Linked DNA regions of Homo sapiens. The protein of the gene in region 1 purifies or fractionates together with the protein of each later gene. This does not show direct contact. Each region holds a gene or a part of one and is shown in the gene's direction. Other genes may lie near its edges.

Region 1 (3,500 bases):
GACAACTTGCCATTTAATAAAATGATGGTTTTTAAAAACAGATCAGTTTCCTACTCATGTGCTTGATTTTGCATTGACTCAGCAACCCCCAATACTCTTTCCCTTCTAAGTTGCTAATACAAAGTAGATAAAATAAATTATGACTAAGACTTCCTTGCTGCCCTTGACCAAATCGGCATCATCAATCTCTTTATAAGTTCCTCAAAGGCAGACAGACCTGACCTTATTGATTTTTGTATCATTAGTGTCCTCCATGGGGGCTGGCATTTTGGGAGCCTTGCAGTTAAGTGTGTATAAATGAAAACCCAGGCACTGAAAACAGGTTTTACAATAAGCTTAAATTTCCCATTTTAAAAAATAGCTCTATATTAAAGTTTCAAGGTATCTGGGAGCCAGAGAGGAAAATGGCAACTTTCCCCTTGAATGTTCTGTACGTGAAATTTGGGGAGTTTTGATGAGAAATATAAAAACTTAACCAAATTGGGGCCAGATGGGTTTTGGTGTTCAGAATCTTTCAGATTTTAGGAAAATTATACAGTAGATACATATTACACTAAGTAACTTCCCCAGTGCATATTTGAATGCACCACTATTCCAATAACAAAAAGTATGAATGGTCACAGTAAGTGAAATAAACTATTTAAGACTATAAAGTTTCAGGTTGGTTCAGGTCAGAATTTGCAGCCAGCTGAGTTCACATCAGATCAATTTGCCAGCAAGTGAGTTAAGAAAACAAAAACAAGTTTGTTCTCAGAGCATTTATGACTTTAGAGTTGTCTATCAGCATTTGTGGACCTATAATGTTTTGTTCATTAATCAAAACCTTCTGTAATTGTTTAGCAAATGGTTATATCATTTCTAATTTCAAGTGGACAGGTAGAAATTATTTCTGCTTTCCTCATTTCCCCTGGAAAAAAAGAAAAGGCAGATATCTGAACAGAGTTTGAGGATGATTAAATACAGGTTGAGCATTCCTAATCTGAAAATCCAAACTCCAAAATACTGCCAAATCCAAAACTTTTTGTGTACCAACAAGAAGCTCAAAGGAAATGCTCATTGGAGCATTTCGGATTTCTGATTTTTGGTTTAAGAATTCTCAACCAGTAAGTATATAACGCAAACATTCCAAAATAAAAAAAAAAATCCAAAATTTGAAACACTTTCGTTTTCAAGCATTTCGGATAAGGGATATTCAGCCTGTGCTACAGTTAAGTACATCGTTTCACTTAGACCACACAGAATCCTCTGAGATAGGTCCTAGGATCGTTTTCCTTTTACAGAAGCCACAGAGGAGTGAGGGGGTAAGTGATTCATTCTGGGTCACAAAGTTAATAAGTAGCAAAACTAAGAATCAGACTTGGGTCTTTCAACTCTGAATCCCTTCCTCCTTCTTCCAGGTCTTGTTTTCATAGGAAAAGCTTCTGTTGAAGCTAGAAAATGACAATTCAGAGATACGTTTGACGAGTTAAATGACTGTATAACAGTGCCCACAGCCTTCTATCAATTTGATTCATTTCAGTTAGTTTGGCAGAAGTGGGCTGATTGTTGTAAAGTTTAAAGTGTGTTTTGATTATTTTTAAAACAGATATAATTGAAAACTTTAATTTTGAAGGTGGAATAATAAGGATACTTTCGGGTGCTCTCCCATTTTGTTTTAATTGTTTAGATGTGCCTGGCATCAGAAGGGATGAAAATGGAAGAATCAAAGCTAATAAAAGCAAAAGAATCCGATGGTGGAAGAATTAAAGAATTAGAGAAGGGAAAGGAAGAAAAAGAAATTAAAATGGAGAAAACAGATGAAACTAGGTTACAGAAGGAAGCAGAATTTGAAAAATCGGCTAAGGAAAATTTAAGAGATTCTAAGGAATTGAGAAATTTTGAGGCATTGCAAATAGATGACATAATGGCTATAAAAATGGAAGATCCCAAAGAAATTAGAAAGGAAGAGTTAGAAGAAGATCACAAATGTAGTCATTTTCCTGATTTTTCTTATTCTGCCAGTAGCAAGATAATAATTAGTGATGTTCCCAGTAGAAAGGATCATATGTGCCATCCTCATGGAATTATGATCATTGAGGATCCCGCAGCATTAAACAAGCCAGAAAAGCTAAAAAAGAAAAAGAAGAAAAGCAAAATGGATCGACATGGAAATGATAAATCCACACCCAAGAAGACTTGCAAAAAGAGGCAGTCTTCGGAATCTGACATTGAGAGCGTCATATATACCATTGAAGCCGTCGCAAAAGGAGACTGGGGCATAGAGAAACTTGGAGATACCCCTCGCAAGAAGGTCCGCACATCCTCAAGTGGCAAGGGAAGCATTTTGGATGCCAAGCCACCAAAGAAAAAAGTGAAATCAAGAGAGAAGAAAATGTCAAAGGAGAAATCCTCAGACACCACCAAAGAGTCAAGACCTCCAGATTTCATTAGTATTTCTGCTAGCAAGAACATTTCTGGTGAGACACCAGAGGGTATAAAAGCAGAACCATTGACCCCTATGGAAGATGCACTACCACCCAGCCTATCAGGACAGGCCAAGCCTGAGGACAGTGACTGTCACAGAAAAATAGAAACTTGTGGTTCCAGGAAATCCGAGAGGTCTTGCAAAGGTGCTCTTTATAAAACCCTGGTGTCTGAGGGCATGCTCACCTCTCTGCGAGCTAATGTTGACAGAGGTAAGTAACTTCTACAAACCTGAAAAGAATTCAAAAACCAAACAGAATTTCACCTTTAGACCTATTGAAAACAACTGCCATAAAAAACAATATGGTATCAAAATAATACCTTACATTTGTATATTTCTTTATGGTTTATAGATCATAATTATTTGTTACTTTACTTACATGTTTTCTAGCACCATTAAGGGAAGTGTATTCATTTTGTAGGTAGTTCTCAGGATGTAATTAAAGTAATTTTAATCTCTTCTTTCCCCCCACTGGTATGGGCTGGCTGTTTGTTTTGAAAGATTATTATTAAATATTCAGAGCTTTAGGTTTGGTTTTGAAAACTGGTGGAATTTCGAGAATCAAGCACGTATGTTTGTCAGAATCTTCACCTGTAGGCTCTAGAAGCAACTGCCTTTCTCTCTTCATTAGGTAATCAAAGCTGTAACTGAAGTGGGCCAGGCACAGTGGCTTACACCTGTAGTCCCAGCGCTTTGGGAGGCCAAGGCGGGTGCATCATTTGAACCGAAGAGCTCTTTAAAACATTATAATGTCCAGAAAATAGTTAACCTGTTTACCTTTATTCCATTGAGTGTTTTATATAAATTCTCTATTTTAAAATATAGCATCTGCCTGGAGGACTACCTTTTGCCAAGCTATATTCCAACAAGACATGTGTGAGTCCTAGGTCTAACAAGCCCCAAATGAAGATACTTGGGCCTATTTCATCCCCAGGGATGTCAGTTCAGTGAGTTTTAGGGAAATTAGACTGAATAGTGCCCACCAGCAAAGGACTCCCATACCTTGGCTGGTTTTTGAATGGAAAAGCTAGCAGCA
Region 2 (3,500 bases), on another chromosome or scaffold:
TAGGTTCTCTTCAGAGTCTTCTGCATTGACTGTCATAATTACTGCCTTTGATATGTTTGTAGAGACTTCATGCTACCCATAACTTGATGGAATTGTTGATAGCCAGGCACCCAGGGATACCACCTACCTTGCGTGATGGCCGACTTGAGGAAGAGGTAATTATTTTTTTCATTCTGTCTATAAAAGTATATTTTCTTCAAACTTTATGCTCCATATAGTTGATATATCCTAGGACATACAACATACAAATAAATGTAATCATGTTTTCCTGTTACTTTGATGTTTCGAATTTTGTTGTGATTTTGGGTAGCAGAGAATGGCAGCAGTACGTATTATTTGGCTTCTCTGCTGATCTACCTGCAGTTATGTGATAAATGCTTGTTGTAGATATGGCTGTTGGTAGCCAACAGAATGGGATGTAAATAAATGAGTTTTAAAAAAGAAACTTTGATCTCATGGCAGATCTACAAAAGAGGTAGCTTAGTAAATATACAAACTTTTGCACTTTCTCCACATTTCTGTGTATTTTTTAAGGGGGTAAATAAAGTCAAATTTTTGGTGGTAGTTCTCCCAAAGAAGTTTCCTCTACAAAAAGTGTCGCCTCTTTTTGAAAAGAATGACATCGAAAAGAGTGATATTATAAATTATTTTACTATAAATTGTTAATAGCTTATTATGCAGATTCTTCCAGGGATTTTTGCTGTTGTTAAACATTAAAGAGCTAAAATCAAAAGAGTAGGTATGTTTGAAATGTATTGAACCTGTAAGTGGAGGCTTTATTTGAGTCAACAGGATAAAAAATGAGATTATATAAATAAGCACAGCCTTTTTGCACTGGTTGTTTTGGGGGCGGAGGTGCCCTGGTAAACTATTTTAATTAACAAAAATTTTATCTATTCATGAGTAGAGACTGATGTTTTGATGTATGTAGACACTAGAATAGCTAAATCAAACTAAATCAATTACCTCTTTATTTTTATTGCATGCATGTGTGTGTGTGTGTGTGTGTGTGTGTGTAGTGAGAACATTTAAAATCTACTTTCTTAGGGCTTCAGCATATGAATTTTGGGGAAACAAAATTCAGTTCCTAACACCTGTGTTACTGTGTATTCTCAAGGATTATTTTTAAACTGCAGTAACTAAGGAATTTTAATAACTAAATTAGCCAAATTTTAGAAAGGTGTCTTTGCTTTGCCTATCATTTGAAATATTACTGTTCTTTTTTTCCCCTCTTTGCTTATTCTAACTAAAAAAAAAAATTAAATAAGAAATTGGCAAACAAATATTCGGTGTTTCTGAAATTTTGTTACTTGGACAAGTAAATTTTGTTAACTTCCATATATAAGGAATTTTTAGCGTGACTTTTATGTTCTCTACAGTATACTTGGACTTTTATGTTTAAATGCAGTTAAGTAGCTTTAAATGTATAAAATGACCCATTCTTCTTGAAACATCATACTGAATTATATTCTAGATTGGGAGTGAAAGTTTATATTCTCTGTTTCAACACAGGCCAAACAGCTGCGAGAGCACTACATGAGCAAGTGTAATACAGAAGTTGCTGAAGCCCAGCAAGCTTTATATCCTGTGCAGCAGACCATCCATGAGCTTCAAAGAAAGGTATGCCAAAATGCAGTGTTTCTTACTTGTATTTGCCTCCAGATATCATTTTGAGTTTTGGTTTTTTGGTGGGGAGAAACTTGAATTTCTTATACATTTTGAAATCCTTAGCACCTAGCACATTGCCTGACCCACAATACAAGTTTATTTTACTGTTAGCAATGATTTATTGGTTGAGTGAACAGATGCATAAATAAGTCAACTATTTTGAGTTCTCTTTCTTTTGAACTCATGGGTTTTCTCTTACCATGAGTATATAACAGTTGTCTTTTGAAGAAAGTAAAGACTTCTATAACCTCCTTTTTATCTTGTTTCTGAGATGTTTTAAAATGTTAATACATTAGAACCACAGGTATTTTTCCTGCAGAATATATACCACTTGTCATTTCTAAAATTTCAGTTTTATGAAATCAGCAGCAAAATCTAAAGAGGTTACACAAATACACTTTTATTTTCAGTTTTTAAATCAGGTGTTGCAAATTTTTGTCTTTCTAATTCATTCATTATTTAGTATTCTGGGATATAATTTTGTGAGTTATTGTGGATTATTCATTAAGTAGAATCTGGTTCAGTTAGTTAAAGATTAGAATGAAGGCTTTCTTTCTTATGCTGATAAAGAGACCTGTGACCTTTTCACACATATAGATTGAGTATTGAATTTTCATTTGGCGTAAACAGTTTTTTTAGTTACAGCTTTGTTATATAAATGCATTCAATAAATTCCCATTTATCCAGAGTAGTTAGGAAATAGGGGTTTCTCTTTAATTATATTTTCAAAAGAGGAAGCGAGCATTGTACATGGAATATGTATACTCGTCTCCCCTCTGTGATAGTCCCTTTGAGAATAGCATTTATTACTTTCTTTGAATTTTGGCATCACCCTGCCCAGTGATGGAAGCTTAGTGAGTACTAAAAAAAATGTATTAATTGATTAACTGCTACCTTTTTTACAGATTCATTCTAATTCTCCTTGGTGGCTAAATGTGATCCACAGAGCAATAGAATTTACTATTGATGAGGAGCTAGTTCAGCGAGTGCGAAATGAAATAACCAGCAACTACAAGCAACAAACTGGCAAGCTTTCTATGTCAGAGAAGTAAGAAAACAGGAAGAAAAAGTATCTACTCATAATTTTAAAAGCAAAGAAATCCTTGTATTTTCTAGTTTCTAATTTCTCATTATTACCGGCTTTTTTTCTCCATTCATAAACCTATACAGACACATTCATACTTCTTTTTTGCAGCCTTTTTTATTCACAGTTTATCAAAATGGTTATAGGTACTATAATTGGGTTTAACTCCTAACTGCGACCTACCTTTGTTACTTTAGTTACTTTAATATTTTACACTTCATAATGTGAGCACATTAGTAACTATTGAAATTATACAGGAAAAGTGCTTGGCAAAGTGCCTCGTATATAGTGCATAATTACAGATTTAATTAAGTATATATACATATATATATATATTCAACCAAGGAATATAACTCTTAGCCATTTTTCTTCTTTCTTCCCAATATTCTGCTTTTATGTTTCATCCTGCAGGCACCTCCTCATATAGAGCAAGGATGTCAGGAAGGCTATCTGTAGTCAGGCTTAAAACGGAAGAATGTGGCAGTCGTACACTTTCAAAGATATCTGAGACAGACATACATTTTTCATGCTCTTTTTCAGTTCCTGAGCACAGGACTATCAAATTTTTTTGGTATCTTTTACGGTAGACAGCCCAATATTATACTTTGAATACATTCTGAAGGAAAACTCACTCAAATGTTGCTGTTAAAAAAAAAAAAAACAGCAAACAGTTTCTTTAACACTTTGTTTGGCAACCATTCTCTGAATTTGAGGAAATTGACCTATTATTCTTTTCTTTGTATTGTGT
Region 3 (4,158 bases), on another chromosome or scaffold:
AGGCTGCATTTCACAATTCCTGTAATGTGCCCACGTAAGAAAGAAGGCAGGTAGTCTGTTTGGTGATAGTATATTTCAAGAACTAATTGTTATTTCCTGTGAATTTGCAACCCAATGTGCTGTGAGTTGAGTTGGAACTAGAATATCAAATACCAAATAGCATACAAAAGGGATAACACTGCAAAAAAAAAATTCAAGTCAAAAATCAAAACAGAGCTCAGAGATTTCAGAAGCAATGGCTTCTTGTCAAGAATAACTGTCATTAAAATTTCCATAAGCACCAGTGAAATTGATTTTGGGGAAAAGTCTAAGGGAGGGTCTGTTTTATAAGACACACTGAAACTTTATTTTATTCTGAATTTCCCCAGCCAAGTTTGTAAGATCTCAGATTTTTCTTGGGCCCTTTCCCTGCCAAGGGGCCAAAGGTTTATCTCTATTGACACATACAGATAAAAAATTTTCATCCAGGAACCTCTATCAGCAGAGTCTGAATAGTCGTCTTTGGCTGGTGAATCACACTAAGGGAGTCTCAGTCCTGAGATGATCAGTGGTGAGAAGTTCAAAAAATAATGAAAAGAGCAAGCACTTAGGCGTCACAATACGCTTCTGGTATAACGCACCAAGCCGATGGAGCACAAGAATTGGTCTGGCGTCATTGTTTTATGTTCTCTGGATGTTGAAGAGTCTGATTTGCATTAGAAACCTCTGCATTCAATAAACAAAAATCAGGATAATAATGACCAAAGTACTATTTGGAACAGAAAACAAATTCAAGCAATGGGTGTTTTGCACTGAATTCATTCAAGATTTTATTAGTTAAGCTCTCACTTAGGTTATTAGGCTCAGCTTGCTTTTTATTTCACTGGCCTCAGTTACTGCAAACAAAAGGAGCCTGGTGTGTGTGTGTGTGTGTGTGTGTGTGTGTGTGTAAGCGCACGTGTATGAGAATGTCAGACATATCACACACAGGCTTTCTACATTCTTCACATTGGAAACCCATCAGCAAAAGGAAGAAGATCTGAAGGGAATGAGTGTTTTTTTTTTGTTTTTTGTTTTTTTCTGGTTTAGGGGATGGAGGGAGAATTTCTCTACATAAACAAGAAGGTTAGAATTGGAAGTCTGCTAAAAAAAATGTTAGAGCTGACCACAGGGTTGTAAATCCACTGACTGGAAGGAGGAAAAGAGAAACATTGCAAGCGACTGAAGTGTGTGGTGTGGCTGCAATGTTTGTGGGTTAGATGAGAAACAAGCGCTGAGTGAAACAGAGAAGGGGGGTGGCTGGTGTGATTTGTTTGGTGTTCAGAGCCAATAGAAATCCCAGACTCTGATAATATCCCCATGCAGCGCCGAGAGGATTCAGAGCTAAGTCTCCGGGCTCCTTTCACATCTGCAGGAGCAGCCAGCCTGGGACCGCGCGGCGCGGGGCGCGCTCTCGCCTCTCCTGCACCCTCAGCCGGCGCGCTTCTCTTATGGGCGTCTGCTGCAGTCTGGCTGCGGTCGAACTGAAAGCGGCGGCGGGAGACCAAACTTAGACCCCGCTGTGGACTAGAGAACTCAGAGAAGGCAGAGGGAGAGGGAGAGAGAGAGAGAGAAGGGACCCGAGGAGGAGGCTTCCATCACGTCATTGCAGGTACGCAGCTTGTCACGACTAACGTGACACAGACACGGTTTCTGATTTCTACCTTCACCAGGCACTTAGAATGAATTGACGTTGTTTGTTCCGTGGCTGGTCAGGACCGAAAGCCCTGAGTGGACGTCTCGCCGGTTTCACCCCGGGTAATTCAAGCTGTTGGCGTGTGTCTGGGGGCCACAAGGTTTATTCACCTATTGAATTATGCGTGGGTGTAACATAAGGACCTTCAAACTTGACCGTGATCGCTCTTTCTTTCTCTTTTAAATAACGTCAATACCAATATGTTGTCATCCCACCAATAAATACCTCTTGGTGACCGCCATTCTAATCATGACTATAGCGAGGCAAACACCATCCAATTGTTAGAAAGCGGGCTACGAACCTCTCCCACCTACCTACCAGGTTAATATCCTCCCTACAGGAATAGGAACCACAGCGGACTTCGGCAGAGTTTTGATTTTTTAAAGCATATGGCCAAGGTGCACCCGCCTCATGAGGGAAATATCACTATTATCACTACGCTGTGGTTGAAGGAGAAGAGAGAAGGGAGGTAGTTATTTTTTAACGTGATTGTCAGTGATCCTTCCTGTGTACCTGACTTATTTCTACATTGTCTTACGAGTTTAAAAATGCATTTGTATTCTGCACGCCAGGCACGTTCAGTTCCAGGATCTCACATATTACTACATTAAAAAGTCATGAATTGGAACTATCTAGTAGATGTGATAGTTGTAAGAAAATATTGATGTTTGATTTTATTTTATTTGATCCTAAAACTCATAAACTTCTATTTCTTTTTTTTTTTTATTTTGAGGTGTGGGTTTTGTTAAAAAAATCTATTTCCTGAGATTTTATCATGTTTGATTTGAAATTTTAAAGATAGTTATATAACTCCCCACCCCTTGATGACTTGTGATTAAATTAGCATTGCTTAATGAGTTCAGTCTTTCCTGGGAAAAGCCAGAGGGGACTGCAAGAAGTCAGTTAAAAAATTGGTCTTGCTTTGCAGTCTTCAAGGGCTGGCTGGTATTCATGTGGCTCTGAATCCCTATGAAAAGCGCTTTTTCTGCAGTGGAACAGATTGGGACTCCAGTACAGCCAGAGAATGGCTCTGCAGCAGGTGCAGGGGCAATCAAATACCTTACCTTTCGTCTAAACAGCACTCTTCCCAGTGGAGTCTTAGTCGATCATATCCAAACCATTCACTGATAATTCGCAATCGACTCACCATTCAGCCGTGCTTAGCTTTCAAGGTAGCCTTTGTCCCAAGACATGTGCCCGACCAAGGAAGATAAGAAAGTTATAAGAAAGGTATTTGTGTTGTATATCACAGTGGAGAATTTATATCGACCTTTTTTTGTTTGTTTGTTTTTTGTTTCTTATCAGATGAACATGTTCTTTCTGTCATTAAAGGAAATGCATGCTTAGCTCTACCATAGAGTCAGGAAAACTTCATAGTTTTTGCCCATCGACTGATCTGAATGATTTAACTGGGTGCTTTTTGAAATCGTGTCAAAGTATAGACATGGCAAGTGAATATTATATTTGGGAGAAGGCATTTTAACTTTATAGATAAATTTTTTTTCCTTTTACATCAGAAAGAAACTGTAAAGAACTGATCTGTGCAAATAAATATAAGTTAATCGACCCAACTACATTCTATTGGTAAAGAGTTGTTTTGTATGATTGTGAGCATTTGTCAATCTTTTATAAATAAAATAGCTGCAATAAGTTGGGACCTATTTCTGTCTTATCTTTCTAACTCTAAAGCAATGTTGGGTGTGTTGGTAGCAACTTTGTGAGTGTGAGACGGATTATATTCACTTTGTATAGACTAGGAGACACTGATGGCTTTTCAAAGATAAATATAAACAATGCTGTGATTATTCATTGTTTTTTGCTATCATTCTTCACCGAGAGAGGTAATCAACAGTTCATTCTCTATGAATCTTAGTAGAGCCAGCCAGAGCTTTACATACCCTCGAGTTATAAGTTTGGTAAAGTTTAAACAAGGTACATGCCTTTAAATCTCTTTAAAGTAAACATCTCTTTTTCTAATGCAAAGGAATGGTATTAGACTCTCAGTTCTTATTGATATGGAGAGGATTGGCCTGTCTGGGTCAAGGGCAGACACTGAGAGACTGCAGAGGCACAGGCACTCAACAGATTAGTTCAGCCACTTTTGTACTTCAGTGTTGCTACAGCAATTGCCCCTGTGCAACGTGCCAGGTTGCAGGCATGTTCTCAGTATCAGGGTCCTTCAAATATCTACGGACAAAAAAGAATTATTTCAACCAGGGAAAACGTGCCCAGCACTCGGCTTAAATGGGTCACACAAGACATTGTTTTGAAGGACAAGGTGTTCAATTAAAAATTAGACCTATGGTGCCATCTTCTTCTTGGATTAGCTGCTTCTTGATAGTTCTTTTGTTTCTAATAATATTAGGTATAATAGGCCTAATAATGTCTAGAATTAATTTTGATCACATGTCAGGCTAAAATGTGGTCCTCAGACTCAACACTGA
Region 4 (3,818 bases), on another chromosome or scaffold:
TGGTCATGTCTTGTTAGGTGCCCTTTCTTTCCCTCAACTTCTTCAGTGTATTGTGTGACTCATGGAAGATTAAATGTTGACTCTAGCCAATTCGAAGAGTAAACAACCTGGAAGGATTTTATGGAACAAAAGTATTATAATAACTACCATTTGCATAGTCCTTTATAGGTTTAAGCCACTTATTATTTGTTCATTTATTTCTTGGTACAGCCTTGTGAAAATTTGAATAGAGCTTTTGTTCCCCTTATGTTAAAGATGAGAAGACTGAAGCCCAGAAAGGTTAAGTAGGATCTTAAGTTTCATTGCTAGTAGGTGCTAATACAAGGATGAGTTCATTCTTTCATTTATTCATTCAGCAAGCAACAAGTGCTTATCATGTGTTAGGGACTGGGAAGGTTGTGGTGATACAGAATTTAACTTGCGTTTTCTAACTCCAGATCCTGTGCTTTTTCTTCTATAGTCGATGTTCACTGTATCATGGGTTATACTATTTCAGCTGCATATTCACCCCACAGGCTCACTTTGTAAGAGTGGTATTAATGTGGACCCTGCACACATACTGCACAGCTCACTACATCCACCCCACTCCCACTCAGGTTACTCTAGGCTCCTTCTATTTATGAAAGTTATTTTCTCTGTCTTCCTACTTACAGAATTATCAGAAAAGCTTAATTGATCTCAATAAAGTTATCCTACTAGATCCAAGTATTATTGAGGCAAAGATGGAACTGGAAGAGGTAACTAGACTCCTTAATCTTAAGGATAAGACAGCACCATTCAACAAAGAAAAGGAGAGAAGGAAAATTGAGATTCAAGAGGTATTTGTATTTGATTATCTTTGAAAGTACTCCTTTGGGGACCTTAGACTGGATTCTAAGGTCATATTCCTGTGAGTTCTAAAACATTTTTAATTTTGTGTTTTTATTCTGATGATCAGTGACAAAATTTTAACCAGCAACAAAATGTCTCCTTTGCAATGATAATTAGCCATTGTATTTCCCAACGTGGGTCCATGGATGGTACTGGGAGTCTCTGCATTACTGCAGTTCTTCCTTTCTTTGGCCTCCATCTGTACTGCTCCCACTCCAGAGTACACTGGGAACCAGCGGCCACTGACTTTGCTCCAGGGTAGACCTGGAGAATCCTGACGGGACTGATTTTGTTACAGGGGCCCTGAAAGCCTCACCTCATAGAGATTATCCAGATTGATTCAGACCTTTTTAGCACTCTGAAATATGACTGCCTCATCAGAGATCTCGAACTACCTCAGGATCAAACTGCTTTTGTGATTCAGATAACTAAAATGTTTTTCTCTGCCTAATATTAGGGAAGAATGTTAGGCTGTGAATCCCTGTACATTCATGAATGCTAATACCCCATTTATAGTCTCACATTTCCACTAAGAGTAAGAGGCTAATATGTAAGAGAAGCTAGGAAGGTTTTTTTTCCTCTTTAAGGAGGGAAGAAAAAACTGTTTTAGGAGAATCGAGCAATGTAAGTTCATTTCTCTGTTAAAATTTATTGTGAAAAGGAGATAAAATTGACATAGGCATTTATACAACAATTGTATAAAGTCTAAAAATTAAATTTTGTTGTCATAGTTTCAATGTCAAATAATTTTTTAAAACTTTTATGAATTGGATCTTACACCCTAAAACTTCTCTTCCTAAAAAAAATTATTACAAAGTTTTCACTTGGAACTGGACTACAGTACAGTCTACTTGTAGTTTTCAATTCTCATTCTGACAGACGTACTTAGGATGTATGTGGTGATTGTGGTTCAGTGTCACAATGCATTTTTCTTTTCTTCATGAAGGTGAATGAAGGCAAGGAGGAGCCTGGAAGACCTGCAGGGGAGGTCTCCATGGGATGCCTTGCTTCTGAGAAGGGAGGCAAAAGCAGCAGGTCACCAGAAGACCCTGAGAAACTTCCGATAGCCAAGCCTAATAATGCCTATGAATTTGGTCAGATTATAAATGCTCTCAGTACCAGGAAGGATAAAGAAGCCTGTGCACATCTTTTAGCCATCACTGCACCAAAAGATTTGCCGATGTTTTTAAGTAACAAACTTGAAGGGGATACATTCCTTCTCCTCATTCAGTCTCTGAAAAATAATCTTATTGAAAAAGATCCCTCATTGGTGTATCAGCATCTTTTATACCTGAGTAAAGCAGAAAGGTTTAAGGTAAGTGGCTAAGTATTTTATTAGTAGAAATTGGTTTTATTAGGGTTTCTGTAACTTAAAAATGTTACTTATGCTAACATAGTTGGTTTTTTGTTTTTTTTTTTTTTTGCTTCTTTTAGATGATGTTGACACTAATTAGCAAGGGCCAAAAGGAGCTAATTGAACAGCTGTTTGAGGACCTTTCGGACACACCAAACAACCATTTTACTTTAGAAGATATACAGGCCCTAAAAAGGCAGTATGAGCTTTAAATCAAGATAATTGTTAGATTTCTTCCATGCATGTATGTGTTCCAGGAATGTTAATGAGATGGTATTGTAAAAGAGTTGCATGGATAAAACTTGGCCTAGAAAAGTTTGGTCTGCACTATAAAACATTTTACTTATTTTCCTACATAGAACATGTATATTCTACAATCTGCTTTTTATTAGTTGTAAATATTTTCTTATGTACCAGAACCAAATAAGTATATTTAGAACTTGTTAAAAATACATTTTAATTTATGATATACATATTATTTTAATTACTTGTTAAAATTTTGAGTTAAGTTGCATTTCTTTGGGCTATGAAGGAGTCCTCTTAAGTTTGATAGAAATGAATTTCTTGTAACATTCTTTTTTAAAAGTGGAAGTCATTAACAGTGATTATTATATCACTTATATCCTGCTAAGATACACATAAATCCCATTTTGTACTAGTACCTGTGGATTACAGTCAGTTAAAATGAAATGCAACACTGAAGTCTATAACATGAAATGATTATTAAATTGTTTATTAATTTAGAGCTATAAGAGGAACTTATTTTTTCTAATACGGAAGCATTGCCTAATAATTAAGAACAAAAATTGCCAAAAATTTCTACCACTTTTTACTAGATTTTAAAAAGCTACTTTCTTTTATATTGCCTATATAAGCAAAAAACCAACCACTGTATTAAAGCAAACTAAGCCTGCATTTATATCTGAATTATTACCTCCATATTTTACCAAACATTTGAATGTCCCCCTTCCCCCTTTTTTGTTTTCTGCTTTTATGACTGTATTTATTCCTTTACTGTAAAAGAATATGAAGAACTCATACATGTTGAAAGCTCCTTTGTTGACTGGGTCAAAGTGAAGGAATTTCAATCTCCATCAGTGTACTGTCATTTATTTCTGCGGTCTGTAGTGCGTTCCCCCTTTCTGGAGCATTTTCTTATTCACTTAGAAGTGAAGATGAAAGTTAGTATCATGTTTACTATTTCCATATTCATTATTATTTTATCTAATCTTTTATAGTTACAGAATATTTTAACTCATCTTGGGTAAATATCTTTCAAACTGTGCCATTTTTCTTTGAAACTGCTTTCTTTGTTCATAAGTGAAAAATCTGTAATGGGACTTTAGTCTTCAAACAAAATTTCTCCTTTTTAATGTTATTGAATTTTTATAAAAGTAAATGGTGGATTGTTAGAAATGTATCCTATGTATGGAGTTTACTTACAGAAATGGGACCACTCTTTTCCTATACATAGCAACTTGAAATTAACTTTAGAGACAAAAGGGAACTTTCTCTTTTGGTGCCTGACACAGTGACATTAATAACTGTAGGTGATTTTGTTGAGCTTTGTGATAGGCACTGTGTGTCATTTATC

The links. The genes of interacting proteins can lie anywhere in the genome.
Region 2: the proteins of BBX (region 1) and SHPRH purify together in Homo sapiens (affinity purification with mass spectrometry, with the first as the bait; one large-scale study listed by BioGRID). This does not show direct contact.
Region 3: the proteins of BBX (region 1) and GREM2 purify together in Homo sapiens (co-immunoprecipitation; one large-scale study listed by IntAct). This does not show direct contact.
Region 4: the proteins of BBX (region 1) and SPAG1 purify together in Homo sapiens (affinity purification with mass spectrometry, with the first as the bait; one large-scale study listed by BioGRID). This does not show direct contact.

What each region holds. Positions count from the first base shown.
Region 1 is NC_000003.12:107,770,962-107,774,461, forward strand, and holds part of BBX (HMG box transcription factor BBX), read left to right. Parts: intron 1-1,666; coding exon 1,667-2,675; intron 2,676-3,500. UniProt on the Homo sapiens protein: Transcription factor that is necessary for cell cycle progression from G1 to S phase.
Region 2 is NC_000006.12:145,922,859-145,926,358, reverse strand, and holds part of SHPRH (E3 ubiquitin-protein ligase SHPRH), read left to right. Parts: intron 1-62; coding exon 63-155; intron 156-1,512; coding exon 1,513-1,620; intron 1,621-2,573; coding exon 2,574-2,716; intron 2,717-3,500. UniProt on the Homo sapiens protein: E3 ubiquitin-protein ligase involved in DNA repair.
Region 3 is NC_000001.11:240,609,356-240,613,513, reverse strand, and holds the start of GREM2 (gremlin-2 precursor), read left to right. Parts: upstream 1-1,358; 5' UTR 1,359-1,630; intron 1,631-4,158. UniProt on the Homo sapiens protein: Cytokine that inhibits the activity of BMP2 and BMP4 in a dose-dependent manner, and thereby modulates signaling by BMP family members. Contributes to the regulation of embryonic morphogenesis via BMP family members.
Region 4 is NC_000008.11:100,238,587-100,242,404, forward strand, and holds the end of SPAG1 (sperm-associated antigen 1), read left to right. Parts: intron 1-653; coding exon 654-818; intron 819-1,816; coding exon 1,817-2,185; intron 2,186-2,304; coding exon 2,305-2,436; 3' UTR 2,437-3,318; downstream 3,319-3,818. UniProt on the Homo sapiens protein: May play a role in the cytoplasmic assembly of the ciliary dynein arms. May play a role in fertilization. Binds GTP and has GTPase activity.